Linked DNA regions of Homo sapiens. The protein of the gene in region 2 purifies or fractionates together with the protein of the main gene of each other region. This does not show direct contact. Each region holds a gene or a part of one and is shown on either strand. Other genes may lie near its edges.

Evidence for each region. Proteins that work in one complex are often made in the same cells at the same time.
Region 1: the proteins of PCDHA9 (region 2) and MLYCD purify together in Homo sapiens (affinity purification with mass spectrometry; 2 studies listed by BioGRID and IntAct, with this or other methods). This does not show direct contact.

The regions. Positions count from the first base shown.
Region 1 is NC_000016.10:83,908,477-83,916,114, reverse strand, and holds part of MLYCD (malonyl-CoA decarboxylase, mitochondrial), read right to left. Parts: intron 3,898-7,638; coding exon 3,748-3,897; intron 1,160-3,747; coding exon 626-1,159; 3' UTR 1-625. UniProt on the Homo sapiens protein: Catalyzes the conversion of malonyl-CoA to acetyl-CoA.
Region 2 is NC_000005.10:140,850,264-140,859,326, forward strand, and holds part of PCDHA9 (protocadherin alpha-9 isoform 1 precursor), read left to right. Parts: coding exon 1-626; coding exon of another isoform or gene 627-761; exon of another isoform or gene 762-3,896; intron 3,897-5,633; exon of another isoform or gene 5,634-5,785; coding exon of another isoform or gene 5,786-8,320; exon of another isoform or gene 8,321-9,063. Other genes in the region: PCDHA10 (protocadherin alpha-10 isoform 1 precursor), read left to right, coding at 5,786-8,173. UniProt on the Homo sapiens protein: Potential calcium-dependent cell-adhesion protein. May be involved in the establishment and maintenance of specific neuronal connections in the brain.

The sequences.
Region 1 (7,638 bases), on a different chromosome or scaffold from region 2:
TTAAAGCCTATTATCCAACTTATGCCTCAAGCAGCAACATTTTTGTGTTCAACAATTTAACTTACTACACACACCTTGTGCAAAATCACAAACCTTCTCATACATTTATGAGCTTCAGAATGTAACTGGGAAGTGTAGCACAGCCCTTTGTCCCTCTGCATTGCATGGTGAGAAACGGCTAAAGCAACCATCGCCGCATTCTGTTTTATGAGCACAAAGGAACACCTATTCTTATCTGGGCCACGCGCCCCGGTCCTTAGGAGGATGCCAGATCCCCCTGGGATGGCAATGGCAGAGGCTGCACAGCTTCCTGAAGATGTAGGTACCACAGCACCAGCCCCGGGCAGGGAGCCAGGCCAAGGGCAACGACAGAATCTTCCGGAGACAGCACAGCAACCCACTCATTTGTGTGCACCCGCACCCACAACCGTCTTGCACTGGGTGCATGTCACGCCCAGGGTGAGGGAAGTTGAGGCCTGGCCTCACAGTGTGGACCGGCTGCGGGACAAGAACACAGTCAACTTTGGCTTTGCTTGGAAAGCTGCTTCAGATACATAACTCCCGGCCCCTCCTGAAAATGATCGTTTTCTTAGCCGGGGCCCTGTGCTTTAGGAGAGGTTTACTGTCAGAGCTTGCTGTTCTTTTGAAACTGGGCCACTAGGCTGAGGACCTGCTCAGAGGCTTTGATGATCTTGGAGCCGAGGTAGGAGGTGCTGTTGGGGCCCGTCTCCTCCAGGAAGTAGCGGTAGTTGGCCATCAGGCCGCAGGAGCCGGTGATGCCTCTGAGGCTCACATCCGCCATCCAGTTGATGCGCCACAGCACCGCCCCGTTCTGCAGGTGGAAGTTGGCCACGGGGTTCAGCGCGTAGCCGCGGTGCTTCTCTCCATACAGGTACCAGGCGCACAGCCTCATCAGCGGAGTCTGCAGCGCCCGCACCAGCTTCTCCGACTGCACCCACTCGCTGCTGCTGAGGAGGAGCTTGAGGGTCTCGTTAATGGGGCCACCTGTGATCTCCGAGATTTCCTTACATTCCGAATCTGTAAAGAGTTCATTCCTCCCATGCTCCTTCGTTTGCGAGTTCAGAAGCCCCAGAAGCCATTTGGTGAAACCAGGTATAGGTGACAGACTTGAAAACACCCCAAGGTGAGGAAACTCTCTCTGTAAAGCATGGTTGGGGTGGAAAGGAAGGCGGAGAAAACACAAATTCAGCAGGTACGTTACCAACAGAGGAGCACCTCTTAACCTACGGCTCACATGCTGCTGTGTAGCGGTCAGAGTGACATCTGATACATGTTGTTTATCTTCTTTCAAGCAGCTTTTCTTTTTTTCCTCTTAGAGTCAGGGTCTTGCTCTATTGCCCTAGCTGGAGTGCAGTGGTGTCATCATGGCTCACTGCAGCCTCCATCTCCTGGGTCCAAGCCATCCTCCTGCCTCAGCCTGCTGAGTAGCTGGGACCACAGGCTCGCGCCGCCACACCCAGCAGGAAATATTTATCAGGAACCTGATGTGTGCCAGACCCTGGAGGCATCCTGACTCCCCAAGGCAGGGCGTCTCTGTCCCCACCATCCCTTCTCATGTCGGCAAAACCGAGACTAGAGTGTTGGGGGACTTGCCTAAAACCAGACAGCTGGCCAGTGGGGAGTGGGGCTCGGTGCACTGCAGCTACTCACTGCAGGCCTTGTCTTTCCCGTACACCATGCTCCTCCCATGGCCACCTGTGAGGCCCCGGAAGCTGCTCTGCTGCTCGGCACACGAGTGGCCAGGGACTGGTGAGTGAGCGACTAGCTGCCCGGCCACACCACGGCGGGTGCAGAACGGGGTAGAGGGCGAGGAGGGGGACGCTGCGGGTATCTCTCCATATCACATGACACGGTTCAATCGTTATTGTCCCAACTAGATAGAGATCTCATGATCATTTCAAACAATCTGCTACTTTCTGATTATAAATGTAACACATGCTCACTATAGATATTTTTTGAAAAAATTAATGACAGAAGAAAATAAAACCATCACACTCCACTACATTGAGAAAACCACTCTCGACAGTCTGCTCAGATAAACTCCTGGTGTTTCTTGATGCGATTTTTGCATGGGTGAGACACTTACTTTATATTTTGCAATATGAATTTATATCGTGAGCATTTTCTCATTATCATTTAAAATTCAAAAACAGAAGATTTTAACCACAGAGTAATATAAAAAAAGCAGCCTATTATGATTTTCCTCACCATGTTCCTCTCGTTGGGCATTCGTGGTAGCTCCCGGGGTTTTTCCCCCACCCCGAACCACTGTTTTTTTTTTTTTTTTTTTGAGACTGTCTCTCCCAGGCTGGAGCGCAATGGTGCAGTCTTGGCTCACTGCAATCTCCGCCTCCTAGGTTCAAGTGATTCTCCTGCCTCGGCCTCCCGAGTAGCTGGGACTACAGGCATGCACCACCATGCCTAATTTTTATATTTTTAGTAGAGACGGGGTTTCACCACGTTCGCCAGGCTAGTCTCGAACTCCTGACCCCAGGTGATCTGCCTGCCTCGGCTGGGATTACAGGCGTGAGCCACTGCGCCCAGCTGTGTTTTGCTTTTGTAAACCCTGACGAGCGCCTCCACGCAGAGGGGCCATTTGTTCCCTTCCAGACTCCCTTTGAGGACTTCTAGGCTGGCCGCCCAGGGGCAGTTAAGCGACACCCTCAGGACAGCTGCTGGGCTAAGGCCCAACTCCCCCGAATCCCGGGATCTGCTCCTCCTCTTCCTGCCTTCCTTACCCTGATACATTTCCCCACCCCGCCCTGCTAATCACCACCCTCAGTGAAGACAGAGGAATGAGGAAACTGTGGGAATGAGCTACGGCTCATTGTTACCCGGGGGAAACATGGCGGCGTGGTAATGAAGCCCACGCCCAGCTGAATCCTGAGGGCTTCAATTAGAAATTGATTATGAATTTACTAGGAGCATGTAAACGTCCCCACTCCACACTGTCGTCCTCAAAGGAAGGCCTCTGCTGCAGCCATGTGCAGCCCCCAACACAGTGAACACCCTGCTCAGAGCCAGTCATTAGCAAACATCTAGCTACCGCACCTAATTATTAGATTCTACTCATTGGAATTTATCCAAGTCCCTGATGAGGCTGGTGGTTTTTGAAAGCCTAGGCCTGGAGTGAACATCAACATTTCTGATGTAGGATGGTTAATATGTTTTTCACAGGGCAGCAAAGAGAGGAGAGTTAGATTAAAAGCCGATGCATTTACCTTCGAGCTGTCTGGTCTCACCTCAGCACTCCCTCACAGGCCATGAGAAGGCCCAAGCTAACAGCACATCAGGTGTCAGAGGCCCTGAGAGTGTGGGCAGGGGCAGGGGGAGGACAGGCGTGGCAGGATGACTACCAGCTGTGCCATCTGGCTGGGACATTTCAGAGTGACACTTACACCAGGATGACACGTGAAATCCAGAGTGTCCTGACCAGGTCAGAACGAGGTCACCCTAGAGAGAGTTGATGACCTCAGAATACAACTGCGTCTTGCAGTCAACTGGGCAGCTGGGTTGGAGGCCTCTCTCAGCATCATTCTCATCTCTCTGGGAGACTCATGGCTCCTAGGAGTTGCCAAGGGGTCTCTGGCACCTTTTCTACCCCCTGCCCCTCCCTTTAGCTCCTGTCTTCATCTGTGTCCCTCATGGCACCTGACACCCCACGAGGTTCGCTGACCTGACCACACGGAAGCCAAGCGTGACCGGGGCTCCCTGCGTGTCGCTTACCTGCAACTCCTTGACGACTCGCTTTATGAGGAATGTTCCCAGCTCCACCCCTTGGAGTCCCTGCTGGGTCAAGCTGATGGAATAAAAGATCGCAGCAGTGATTTTGTTCTTCTCTTCTGTTTCTGATGGAGGATGTTCCTTCACGATTGCCTGGAAAACACCAACGATGGTTCTAAGGGTGGCCTGGCCGCTCTGCAGCCCACGAGGCAAGCCTGTTGCTGGGACGAGAAGACAATTCTCAGAGCACTGAAGGAGCTGGAAGAGACCTCGGCTCCCCAGCTGGGGTTCAGGCTACAGAGCCTAAAAGCTGCTCTGTTTTGAAAACTCTCTGGAGGAGGCGACTCCACCGCGTGCCTGGGGGTCCTCAGCACTGCATCGTTTCTTGAAATTTTCATGCAAACTTTGTTGAAGAGCAATGTATGCCCCTTTCTGTCTCTTTTAGGCCTTTGTGCAAACAAAAACTTGCTCCATAAACTCTCCGGCCAACACTCAGCGATAACACACGGATCCTTGAGACCAAACAGCTCCAGTTCCTTCAGCTTCTCCTAAAGGACTGACGTTTCCCACCACTGAATTGTTTTTCCTCCTTTTCTCTGAACCCTAGGTTTTTCAAATTTCTCAAGAGGCTATAAGCAGTCCTATATAATTTTCTTTTAGGAAATATACCTTTGTTTGACTTTTTCATGTACCTTTTGGGTTTTGTGCCATTTCTGTTTTTCCTAAATGGTAACACATTTGCAGACATCCCTGCGAGGCATTCTAAGAAACGAGCTAGACTGGGAAGTCGCTTAGCTGAAGTCTGAGTTTATTGCCTCTCATTCTCACGGCAGCGTTTTCTAATCCCTTATACTCCGAAGCATAATCCTTAACACTCCAAAGCTCACTGGATAACAGTGGAACAGCAGGGGGCTACCTTTTCATTTGCTTTGAAGCAGGGAAACCAGCTTACTTTTGAAGAACCCATTTAAACTATTTTAACTTCTACCAGCGACCTTCGATTCTGGAAGTAGGAGCGTTTAGCTCAGACTGCATAGATGAGGTCTCGTAGTCAGTCCATGAACTTTCTGAAATTGTTCTGAAATTGTATGGAGGCCGGGCGCGGTGGCTCACGCCTGTAATCCCAGCACTTTGGGAGGCCGAGGCGGGCAGATCACGAGGTCAGGAGATCGAGACCACCCTGGCTAACACGGTGAAACCCCGTCTCTACTAAAAATACAAAAAAAATGAGCCGGGCATGGTGGCAGGTGCCTGTAGTCCCAGCTACTACGGAGGCTGAGGCAGGAGAATGGTGTGAACCCGGGAGGCGGAGGTTGCAGGGAGCCGAGATCATGCCACTGCACTCCAGCCTGGGCACAGAGCGAGACTCCGTCTCAAAAAAAAGAAAAAAAGAAAGAAATTGTGTATGGAATGTGTGAGTCTATGCATATCTGCCCTGAGGAAAACATCCTCAGCATTTTTCCCTCCAGATTCTTAACAGGGTCTGTGACTCCAACAAAGTGAAGAAATGCTGCTGTGAGGAAAGGGGGAGAGCTCATGACATGAAGGACATATCCTCCGAGGCCCGAGAGGGGCCCGCTGTCCTGCACCGTGCTCTATGGAAGAGCTCTGTCGTTCATAGGACGGAGCTCACTTCACATCACTCCCAGGCTTATCTCCTTTCTTTTTTTTTTTTTTTTTGAGATGGAGTCTTGCTCTGTCGCCCAGGCTGGAGTGCAGTGGCACGACCTCGGCTCACTGCAACCTCTGCCTAGTGGCAAGCGATTCTCATTTGTGCCTCAGCCTCCCAAGTAGCTGGGGCTACAGGTGCACACCACCACACCCGGCTAATTTTTGTATTTTTAGTAGAGACGGGGTTTCACCATGTTGGCCAGGCTGGTCTGGAACTCCTGACCTCAGGTGATCCGGCTGCCTCCTCAGCCTCCCGGGGTGTTGGGATTCTGGGCGCGAGTCACTGCGTCGGGCTCTCCTTTGTTTTTTAAGAAGTCTGCAAATTATCTTGTGATTCCTTATGCAAAAATCCCAGCAATCTTTTTTTTAAGTTTTCAAAATAAAAACAAAACTTTCTTCGGTTATACAAGTGAGGTATGTATAATGTCAAAGAGACAAAAAATTGATAAAACTAAGTGAATAAAACAAAAAGAGGCAAAAAAAAAAAACCATGCATAAAAAAAAATAACCAATTACTCCAAAATCTAATCTCCATGACTGTTGCTGCTGCCCTTTTGATGAACACCTTTCCAGGCCTGTCTCAGAGGCTCTCGGTACGCACACAAATGCACACAGGACTGCGTACCCACGCACATTCTCACGTGCCCTTAGAGTCAGGATGCGAGCTGGGTCTGAATTCCAGTTCCGCCCTTACTTGCTCGATGATCATGGGTAAGTTGCGGACGTTCCCTCAAGCCTCGGTTTTCTCATAATAATACCTATATCAGCCGGGCACGGTGGCTCACGCCTTTATAGTCCCAGCACTTTGGGAAGCCGCGGCGGGCAGATCACCTGAGGTCGGGAGTTCGAGACCAGCCTGGCCAACATGGTGAAATCCCATCTCTGCTAAAAATACAAAAAAAAAAAAAAATTAGCTGGGCATGGTGGCACATGCCTGTAATCCCCAGCTACTCGGGAGGCTGAGGCAGGAGAATTGCTTGTACCCGGGAGTTGGAGGTTGCAGTGAGCCGAGACAGCACCATTGCACTCTAGCCTGCGCAAGAAGAGCGAAACTCCGCTTCAAAAAAAAAAAAAAAAAACACAACACCACCACCTAAATCACAGGGTGCTCAGGGCAATAACACACAAAATGTGCTTCACAGACTGACAGGCACAGAGCACTACTCAACAGATATTATTAATATTATTCATAAGACCACACCATACCCATGCTACTCTATAAACCTGAACTTCTACTCAAGAGTAAGTCAAGGCTGGTTTTCCATATAAACCTACAACAATATTTAAATACATGCACAGATATCTGATGTACACGAGGCCGCGCCATGTGTCTACAGCGCCCTCCTGGAGCCCATTCTCTCCTGATGGGCCCTAGGTTATCATCCCCACCCTTTTGAACTGTCAGCAATGCTGCAGGAATAGCCATCTGACTCTCAGGGCTGAGCATCTCCCCAGGAGAAGTTCCTAGGAGTGGAATTGTTAGGCCAGAAGGAATGCACATTCTGAATTTTCATCCATGTTGCCAAATTGCCCTCAGAGAAGTCAGAATGGCCCCTAGTCCCACCAAGAGGGCATCGGAGTGTGACTCTTTCACACACAAACATTGTAAGGGAATGTGTTTCTCCTTGGTGATCAGGAATGTCTGCTCATTTGCCCTACTCAGCTTCTCTAACTTCTCAGCAGGACACCTGCTTAGGGCACTCATCTTGTGATGGGCCATCATCCACTTAGCTTCCTAACAGCCACTCATGTCCTCTTGGTCTGAGCAAACCTGCAATGCCCCAGGGGTCTCATGCTCCCTGCCACCTATCTTTAGCACTCCTATTTCCAGACCCTGCAATGTGCTCCCTGGTTCTTCTGCCCCCACGGGCCTGCAGGAGTGTTTCAGACATTCTTGCCAAACTCATCCAGGAGCAGAGCAGCTTGCCACAGACGGGGCTATCAACCACAAGTCCCATAACCTCCACTCGCCAAGGAGTGTCCTCGGCCCACATCAAGCATAAGGGATGGAGTGCCTCTTTCAATTTTCTAATCAAGTATCTTTCAAAACTCCCCACAGGCATTTAACAAAAGCTGTAAAGGTAAACTATGTATGAATCAGGTATCTGTCCCTTCTTCCTTCACAATTATTTTCTGCCTCACAAACATGTTCTGTGATAGACTTTAACTGTATCTCAACCTAAGATCAACACAGCCAGATGAATGCTCGCCTTGCTCCATAAC
Region 2 (9,063 bases):
TGGTGGGGAAGGTGCGCGCAGTGGACGCCGACTCGGGCTACAACGCGTGGCTTTCATACGAGCTGCAGCCAGAAACGGCCAGCGCGAGCATCCCGTTCCGCGTGGGGCTGTACACGGGCGAGATCAGCACAACGCGTGCCCTGGACGAAACGGACGCACCGCGCCAGCGCCTACTGGTGCTGGTGAAAGACCACGGGGAGCCAGCGCTGACGGCCACGGCCACTGTGCTGGTGTCGCTGGTGGAGAGCGGCCAGGCGCCAAAGTCATCGTCGCGGGCGTCAGTGGGTGCCACGGGCCCCGAGGTGACGCTGGTGGATGTCAACGTGTACCTGATCATCGCCATCTGCGCGGTGTCTAGCCTGTTGGTTCTCACGCTGCTGCTGTACACTGTGCTGCGGTGCTCGGCGATGCCCACCGAGGGCGAGTGCGCGCCTGGCAAGCCGACGCTGGTGTGTTCTAGCGCGGTGGGGAGTTGGTCGTACTCGCAGCAGAGGAGGCAGAGGGTGTGCTCTGGCGAGGGTAAGCAGAAGACCGACCTCATGGCCTTCAGCCCGGGCCTTTCTCCTTGTGCTGGATCTACAGAGCGAACGGGAGAACCCTCTGCTTCCTCAGATTCAACTGGGAAGGTGGGTTTTTCTAGCATTTTATTTATTTATATAATTTTTTTTCTTGAAAGATATTATCGATTACTCCCAGGGGCCGTTCAAATAGTTTTATTCATTTTTCTAGAAATCCAGCAGATTTTTTTTCTGATAAAGTAAACCCCTTAACATTGGAGCCGACTTTGTCTTGACTTCTAGTGAGAATTATAAACTGTATATTAAATAGATATTTTTTGGGTGCTGAATCAATTTTATTTAAATTTGTGATTAAAGTGACATTGAATTTCTGATGCTATGCTGCCATAACACTTGAAAACCAATTTAGTTGTTAGTCATTCATTAAACATTAACATCACTATCATTTATTTATTGCTAAATGATGCATAGTATTTTAGTCTACTTGTATTGTTTATAAGAAACCCAAGCAAAAATATATAGCAATTGTTACCTTGTTAAGTTTGTAGTTCTCTACATTTCTCTGGATGGAGACTGTGAACATCTGATTGTTCAGCAACCTTCAGTATCTATTATTTTAATAAGAAAGAAACTTCCCCTAAACTTTAGAAAACAGTTGCTCCACTTTAGGAATCAAATTATGTCAATAAATGTTATAAACACAGCCTTCATTTCAACTTATATAAAATATGTTTTAAAATGCCTGACAATGTAGATAATTCAAGAAATGTTGACTGAAATTTTGTCTACACTTAGAACATTTTTTGAAATTCAGTTTACAGAAATTGGAGAAAATGCTTTTTAAACAAGTGTTTCCTTTCTTCAAGAAGACATTCTCCTTTTAATTGAAATTTTCTCCATTCAGTGATAAAATGATCAGCCATGTGAAGATTCGAAACTTCGAGTTCTTTTGAAATTCAGAGTCTGTAACTTAAAACATTACCCTTATGAATTTAGATGAGAATTCACTTGTTCTGTCAGTAATCCATAAGACAGAAATCTGTTTTTTTAAAAATATCTTTTTCTCCTCTCAGCTCATACATAACACAAGGCAGAAATCTGGATATGAGATTTGCCTCTTTAATGTCACTACATGTTATGTTTCCTGAATTGTAGTATGTGACTTTCAAAATGGTGGTTTTCCACACTCTACCTTTAGTGCAAGCTATTTGTTTGTTTTCTAATTTATAGTTTTAAAAACTTCGCTTATTGAGTTTTTGTTATGTGGTTTATATTTTTCTTTCTCTTTCAGCTATTTTATTTAATATTGTGTCAGATATTTTACAAGGTATGACCTAATTAAAAACTCAGTAGAGAAAGATCAGAATGGCCTTGAGAATAGAGCCACAAAAATAACTATGAAAATGCCAGTAACGTTTATTTAAAACAAAATATTTTAATTTTTAAATTTTCCCTTAAAACACACTTTTGGAATATGCTACAATATTACATGTTTTTTGTCTTTTTATTTTTCTGAGACGGAGTCGTTTTCTGCCACCCAGGCTGGAGTACAGTGGCATGATCTTGGCTCACTGCAACGTCTGCCTCCTGGGTTCAAGCAATTCTCCTGCCTCAGCCTCCTGAGTAGCTGGGATTATAGGCACATGCCACCGCGCCCAGCTAATTTTTGTATTTTTAGTAGAGATGGGGTTTCATCATGTTGGCCAGGTTGGTCTCGAACTCCTGACCTTGTGATGCTCCCACCTCGGCCTCCCAAAGTGCTGGGATTAAAGCTGTGAGCCACTGTGCCAAGGCTTTTTTATTTTTTTTTTTTGTCATTTTCTTTCAAAACTTGAGTGGTCTCTGAGCTCCTGTCATTAAACCTATCTATATCTGTCTATCAGCACAACTCACCTTGAATATAGTCTTATACTTTCAAGTATCTTTGTCTTTGCACGTTTTTCAAGTTTCATGTGCCATTTAAACTTGGACCCAGGTATCTGATTATTTGATGTGAATAGAGGGATGCTACAGATGTCATTTGTCTCCCGCCCTAAGTCCTCCAGTCTCCTTAGAGCTAGTACTTACTAAGCATTTACTATGTCATCAATAATCATAAAACGTATTTTTTTTTTTGAGTCAGAGTCTCGCTCTGTTGCCCAGGCTGGAGTGCAGTGGTGCCATCTTGGCTCACTCCAAGCTCCCCCTCCCGTGTTCACGCCATTCTCCTGCCTCAGCCTCCCGAGTAGCTGGGACTACAGGCGCCTGCCACCATGCCCGCCTAATTTTTTTGTATTTTTAGTAGAGATGGGGTTTCACCGTGTTAGTCAGGATGGTCTCGATCTCCTGACCTCATGATCCTCCCGCCTCAGCCTCCCAAAATGCTGGGATTACAGGCGTGAGCCACCGCGCCTGGCCTAAAATGTGTTCTTTATTATTGACGGCTGTATTGATGGGATTGGTAATTTAGTCCTTCATATTAATCTCTATTCTCTCTCAGAGTACAAGCTCTCATCATATGCAAATTCTCAGAAGGGCTGTGAACACCTTAGTAATAAATTTATCTTTTGAGGTCATTAGCAAACATGAACTCACAGGGATCCAGAGATGGTAAAATTCAAAACAGCCTGTCAAGTTCAAAACAGAGAGGTGAAAGCAGAAGAGACACTTTCCTATTTTGCCTAATAGGTCTCCTTATATGCATCTGTAGTTAACATTCCTCAATTCAAGTTAGAATCATGAAACAATAATGAAGCTCCTCCTATGTCTCTTTTCAAGTTGTAATTACTATATAGGAAAAACTAAGTTGTCACCCAATATCTTAGACACTTTGAGAGCAAAGGGGGTGCTGTAAATAAGTATACAAGATCACAGACCTAAATTGAGCCTGTTCCAGACAAATTGGGGCCTATGGTCAACCTATCCTTAGACCTGCTAACGCATTAGCATTAGCAGCACCTAAGTCCTCATTGAATGTTCTGGTTCAAGGCTCCACCTCAGAAATTCTGAAATGGGTAGTAAGAGCAAATTTTCATTTTAAAGCACACCTGAGATGATTCTCATACAACCGAAATTTTAGATCCATAGCCCTATTTGATACTTGACAGTGCAAGTTTCTGTAATTTAAAAAGATGTGGTGGCCTGACACCTGCAATCCCAACATTTTGGGAGGCCAAGGTGGGAGGGTCCCTTCCTTGAGCCCAGCAGTTTGAGACCAATGTAGTGAGACTCATCTCTGCCAAAAAAAAAAAATTAGCCGGGCATGGTGGCACACATCTCTAGTCCCAATTACTCAGGAGGCTGAGGCGAGAGAATCGCTTGAGCCTGGGACATTGAGGCTGCAGTGAACTGTGATGGCACAACTGCATTTCAGCCCGGGTGACAGCAAGATTCTGTCTCAAAAAAAAAAAAAAAAAGAGTAGTTTAACTACTCCCTACTTTTTATTCAATATTGGACATCTACATTGGGATATTTATGTTATCACTTGGTATAAAATGTACATTAGTAGAAATTGAGTTTAGTTTTTATTATTTTGTGCGTGGAGATGATTGATCAATGGCAAACTTATTTTACGCTCCAGATAGCTAAAACAAACGTTGATATTTTGATACATAACTCATTACATTTTAATTCAGGGTTTATAAAAAAGTAATCTCTAAAATCAGAATTTGAATGAATTTTGATGCAAGAGGCATTCCAGAGGAGTAGAGAAGTATAGAAACAGAATTTAGTAGGACACATAAACTGATGGATTAAGTGACACCCATTTCTGTCAGTTTTCTTATTCATAAATATTGTTGCTCTGTCATTCAGATTTTAATAAAAAAAGTTTAAAGTAATTGACACATTTAAAAATATTCTTTAGAAAAGTCAAAACATCATTAAATAAAATAAATTAACCCTTGCATAAGACCAATATGTCTGTTGTTAAGTTTTCCTTTCTTGGAAAGACAGAAAACTCAAGTTTTTTTCAGCAGCACAGATATATTACATTTTCATTCCTGAATATTTGATTTCAAGAACTTTGAGAGAGAAAAAAATATTTTTACTGCAAGTGGTGATGAAAAACTTCACTGACATTGATAAAATTACTAGATATATTTCAGAACTGTGTCTTTTGGGCATTTGAAAAGCGTAAATATAACAGGGTTGAAAGCATTTGCCTCTGAAAGCAGAAATAATAAATTTCTTAATTACTTTATTCAGAATTATAATTAAGATTCTTTTTGCCCGTGTAAGATATTATAAAATGAAACTTCTTGTATAAAGGATTTTTCTGTAATAGTACTTTTCTGTTTTCTTAAATACAGAAACCACCACTCTCAGCCTGTGCAGTAGCAATAATTAAGGCATTCTATAGGTAATAATTTTGCCTGATGAGCCAAATTTGGTATTGAGCCTCATGAAAACAAATGTGGCCAAATTGAGGCCTGAGAATAGTTTCCATTTATGAAGCACTCATTCTCCTTAAGGTACTATTGCAAGCACTTACTATATTATAATTCACTCAACCACCGTATTACTATTAGGCCAAAGTTATAAAATTGGAACATGAGGGAGGGAGAGGTTAAACGATTTTCCCAAGTCATGTGGCTAGTGAGTAGGATAATAGGAATCTAAATGGAGAAATGTCTGATGTTGAAGCTAATGATCTCTAAATTCTAGTGATGACTAGATCTTCGGAGTTATAAACACCTCACAGATAGTTGATGCTTGACATTAGTGTCTAAATAAACCTTATTAAATCTCAAAATAATGAGAAAGAGAAGTAAGTTAAGTGTCAGAACTTAAATGGAACTAAAGTTGTCATTTAATAAAATATTAGTATACTCAGTAGTATGCAAATATTAAGGGCATTTTGAAATTCGGCTATTGATAATCATGTGGTTAGGGAAGAAATCACTACTCTGAGAGTCTACATTTAAGAAAACATTGCACGTGGGATCAACATTTATTGTTATTAACTATAAAGAGACGTAATGTGAGGCTTTGAAAGTCCATAGACATAAAAATACGTAAAAAAAGAATTAACATATGAATGAAAGAAAAGTTGTGAACTCATGGAATCGTACTTACACCTAAAGCCACCGGATGTCGCTGTCGTCCACAAAATAGCTTTTTAGAACAAAGGCATCAGCCAGTTTCTCAAGGACTAGGAAGTAGCGTCATTCTGAGATCTCAGCCATTTCGATAAAAAATAGATATAAGAAATAGGACAGAAAATGTCAGATCGTATGTGCGTTCTAGACCGCTGATTCGTCGATTTGTAAAACAAGAGAAGGATAAGATGGTTTCCAGATGTAGCTGCCTGGGGGTCCAGTGTCTGCTGCTCTCGCTTCTTCTCCTCGCAGCCTGGGAGGTGGGGAGCGGCCAGCTCCACTACTCAGTCTACGAGGAGGCCAGACACGGCACCTTCGTGGGCCGCATCGCGCAGGACCTGGGGCTGGAGCTGGCGGAGCTGGTGCAGCGCCTGTTCCGGGTGGCGTCCAAAAGACACGGGGACCTTCTGGAGGTAAATCTGCAGAATGGCATTTTGTTTGTGAATTCTCGGATTGACCGCGAGGAGCTGTGCGGGCGGAGCGTGGAGTGCAGCATCCACCTGGAGGTGATCGTGGACAGGCCGCTGCAGGTTTTCCATGTGGACGTGGAAGTGAAGGACATTAACGACAACCCGCCCAGGTTCTCCGTAACAGAACAAAAGCTCTCAATACCTGAATCCAGACTGCTTGACTCTCGATTTCCACTAGAAGGCGCATCTGATGCGGATGTTGGAGAGAACGCATTGCTTACTTACAAACTCAGTCCAAATGAGTATTTTGTTCTTGATATTATAAACAAAAAAGACAAAGACAAATTCCCAGTGCTTGTTCTGCGGAAGCTGCTGGATCGTGAAGAAAATCCTCAGCTAAAGTTGTTGTTGACAGCAACTGATGGAGGCAAACCTGAATTTACCGGATCTGTTTCTCTGCTGATCCTGGTGTTAGATGCCAATGATAACGCCCCTATCTTTGACAGACCGGTTTATGAAGTTAAGATGTATGAAAATCAAGTGAACCAAACATTAGTAATACGGCTCAACGCTTCTGATTCGGATGAAGGAATAAACAAGGAAATGATGTATTCATTTAGCTCTTTGGTCCCACCCACGATAAGAAGGAAATTTTGGATAAACGAAAGGACGGGAGAAATAAAAGTAAATGATGCTATTGACTTTGAGGACAGTAACACTTATGAAATTCATGTAGATGTTACAGATAAGGGAAACCCACCTATGGTTGGTCACTGCACGGTCCTAGTGGAACTACTGGATGAAAATGATAATTCACCTGAGGTGATTGTCACTTCTCTGTCTCTCCCAGTGAAAGAAGATGCTCAAGTGGGCACCGTCATTGCCCTAATCAGCGTTTCTGACCATGATTCAGGAGCCAACGGACAGGTCACCTGCTCTCTGACGCCTCACGTTCCGTTCAAGCTGGTGTCCACCTACAAGAATTACTACTCATTGGTGCTGGACAGCGCTCTGGACCGCGAGAGGGTGTCGGCCTATGAGCTGGTGGTGACCGCGCGGGACGGGGGCTCGCCTCCGCTGTGGGCCACGGCCAGCGTGTCTGTGGAGGTGGCCGACGTGAACGACAACGCGCCTGCGTTCGCGCAGTCCGAGTACACGGTGTTCGTGAAGGAGAACAACCCGCCAGGCTGCCACATCTTCACGGTGTCTGCGTGGGACGCGGACGCGCAGGAGAACGCCCTGGTGTCCTACTCTCTGGTGGAGCGGCGGTTGGGCGAGCGCTCGCTGTCGAGCTACGTGTCGGTGCACGCGGAGAGCGGCAAGGTGTACGCGCTGCAGCCGCTGGACCACGAGGAGCTGGAGCTGCTACAGTTCCAGGTGAGCGCGCGCGATGGGGGCGTGCCGCCTCTGGGCAGCAACTTGACGCTGCAGGTGTTCGTGCTGGACGAGAACGACAACGCTCCCGCGCTGCTGGCGTCTCCCGCTGGCAGCGCGGGCGGTGCAGTCAGTGAGCTGGTGCTGCGGTCGGTGGTTGCGGGTCACGTGGTGGCTAAGGTGCGCGCAGTGGACGCTGACTCTGGATACAACGCGTGGCTGTCGTATGAATTGCAGTCGGCGGCGGTTGGTGCACGCATCCCGTTTCGCGTGGGGCTGTACACGGGCGAGATCAGTACGACGCGCGCTCTGGATGAGACTGACTCGCCACGCCAGCGCCTACTGGTGCTGGTGAAGGACCATGGCGAGCCGTCGCTGACGGCCACGGCCACTGTGCTTGTGTCGCTTGTGGAGGGCAGCCAGGCACCCAAGGCCTCGTCGCGGGCTTCAGTGGGCGTGGCGCCCGAGGTGGCCCTGGTGGATGTCAACGTGTACCTGATCATCGCCATCTGCGCGGTGTCCAGCTTGCTGGTGCTCACGCTGCTGCTGTACACTGCACTGAGGTGCTCGGCGGCGCCCACCGAGGGCGCATGTGGGCCGGTGAAGCCCACGCTGGTGTGCTCTAGCGCGGTGGGGAGCTGGTCTTACTCGCAGCAGAGGCGGCAGAGGGTGTGTTCTGGGGAGGGCCTGCCCAAGGCGGACCTCATGGCCTTCAGCCCCAGCCTTCCACCATGCCCAATGGTAGATGTGGACGGGGAAGATCAGTCTATTGGAGGGGACCACTCTAGGAAGGTGGGTTATTACGTTTTCATTTTCCTTTTGTGCTTTATGAATAATATTTTCTCTTACCGCATTTTCTCAAATATGTATCAGAATATTTCATTTTTGTCTACATTCCATTTATGCTTGAATATTTCTAGTGATACCTTTGTAATATAATTTATTCCAGGAGTTTTAAAATTTTTTTATCCTACCCAGTGTGTCAGCCTTTGATTGGTACTTAAATTTTTTTAAATAACAATTTATTCTGAATACACTAATATTTTCCAATACAAATATGTGATATAGGTTGCAGTTCTGACGATTTACTTTCATAATCACTTTTCGTTACAAATATTTGTGAGATTAGTACTTCATGTTATTTCATTTCCAATCTAAATTTTGATTTGATTGTATTTGCATTACCAAAAAATTCCACTGATCTATATCTCTTCAGTGAAAATGTGTTTTCCTCCATGTGTAGAATATGTGTAGCGTACCACAGCTTATACTGCCATAGTAGATTTCAATGTTCAGTGATTACAGCTTTTTCTCAATAGTGCAGTAAGTAGGTGGGCAGTTCATTGGTAAAAATTTCTTAATCTTAGCAATTAAGTTAAATGCTTTGAACTTTAAAAACGTTTTCCATTTTTATTTTAGTTGTAGTGGTACCTGTGTCAGTGTGTATTATTCACTTAGCAGAAGAAAATGTATGTTTCTTTTATTTACATAATTTTATCCAGTAGCTCTTCATTATCTGCTCCTTTATCAGCATTAGGCATTGCTTATGATATTCAGGTATTAGCTCTTTCACTTTAAGGAAGGAGTCATGCTTATGTTTAATAATGAAGAGAATTTGAACACTTTTTACTTTTGAGACTGAAAATACTTTAGTATGAATTAATATTAAAAGTTTGAGGAGA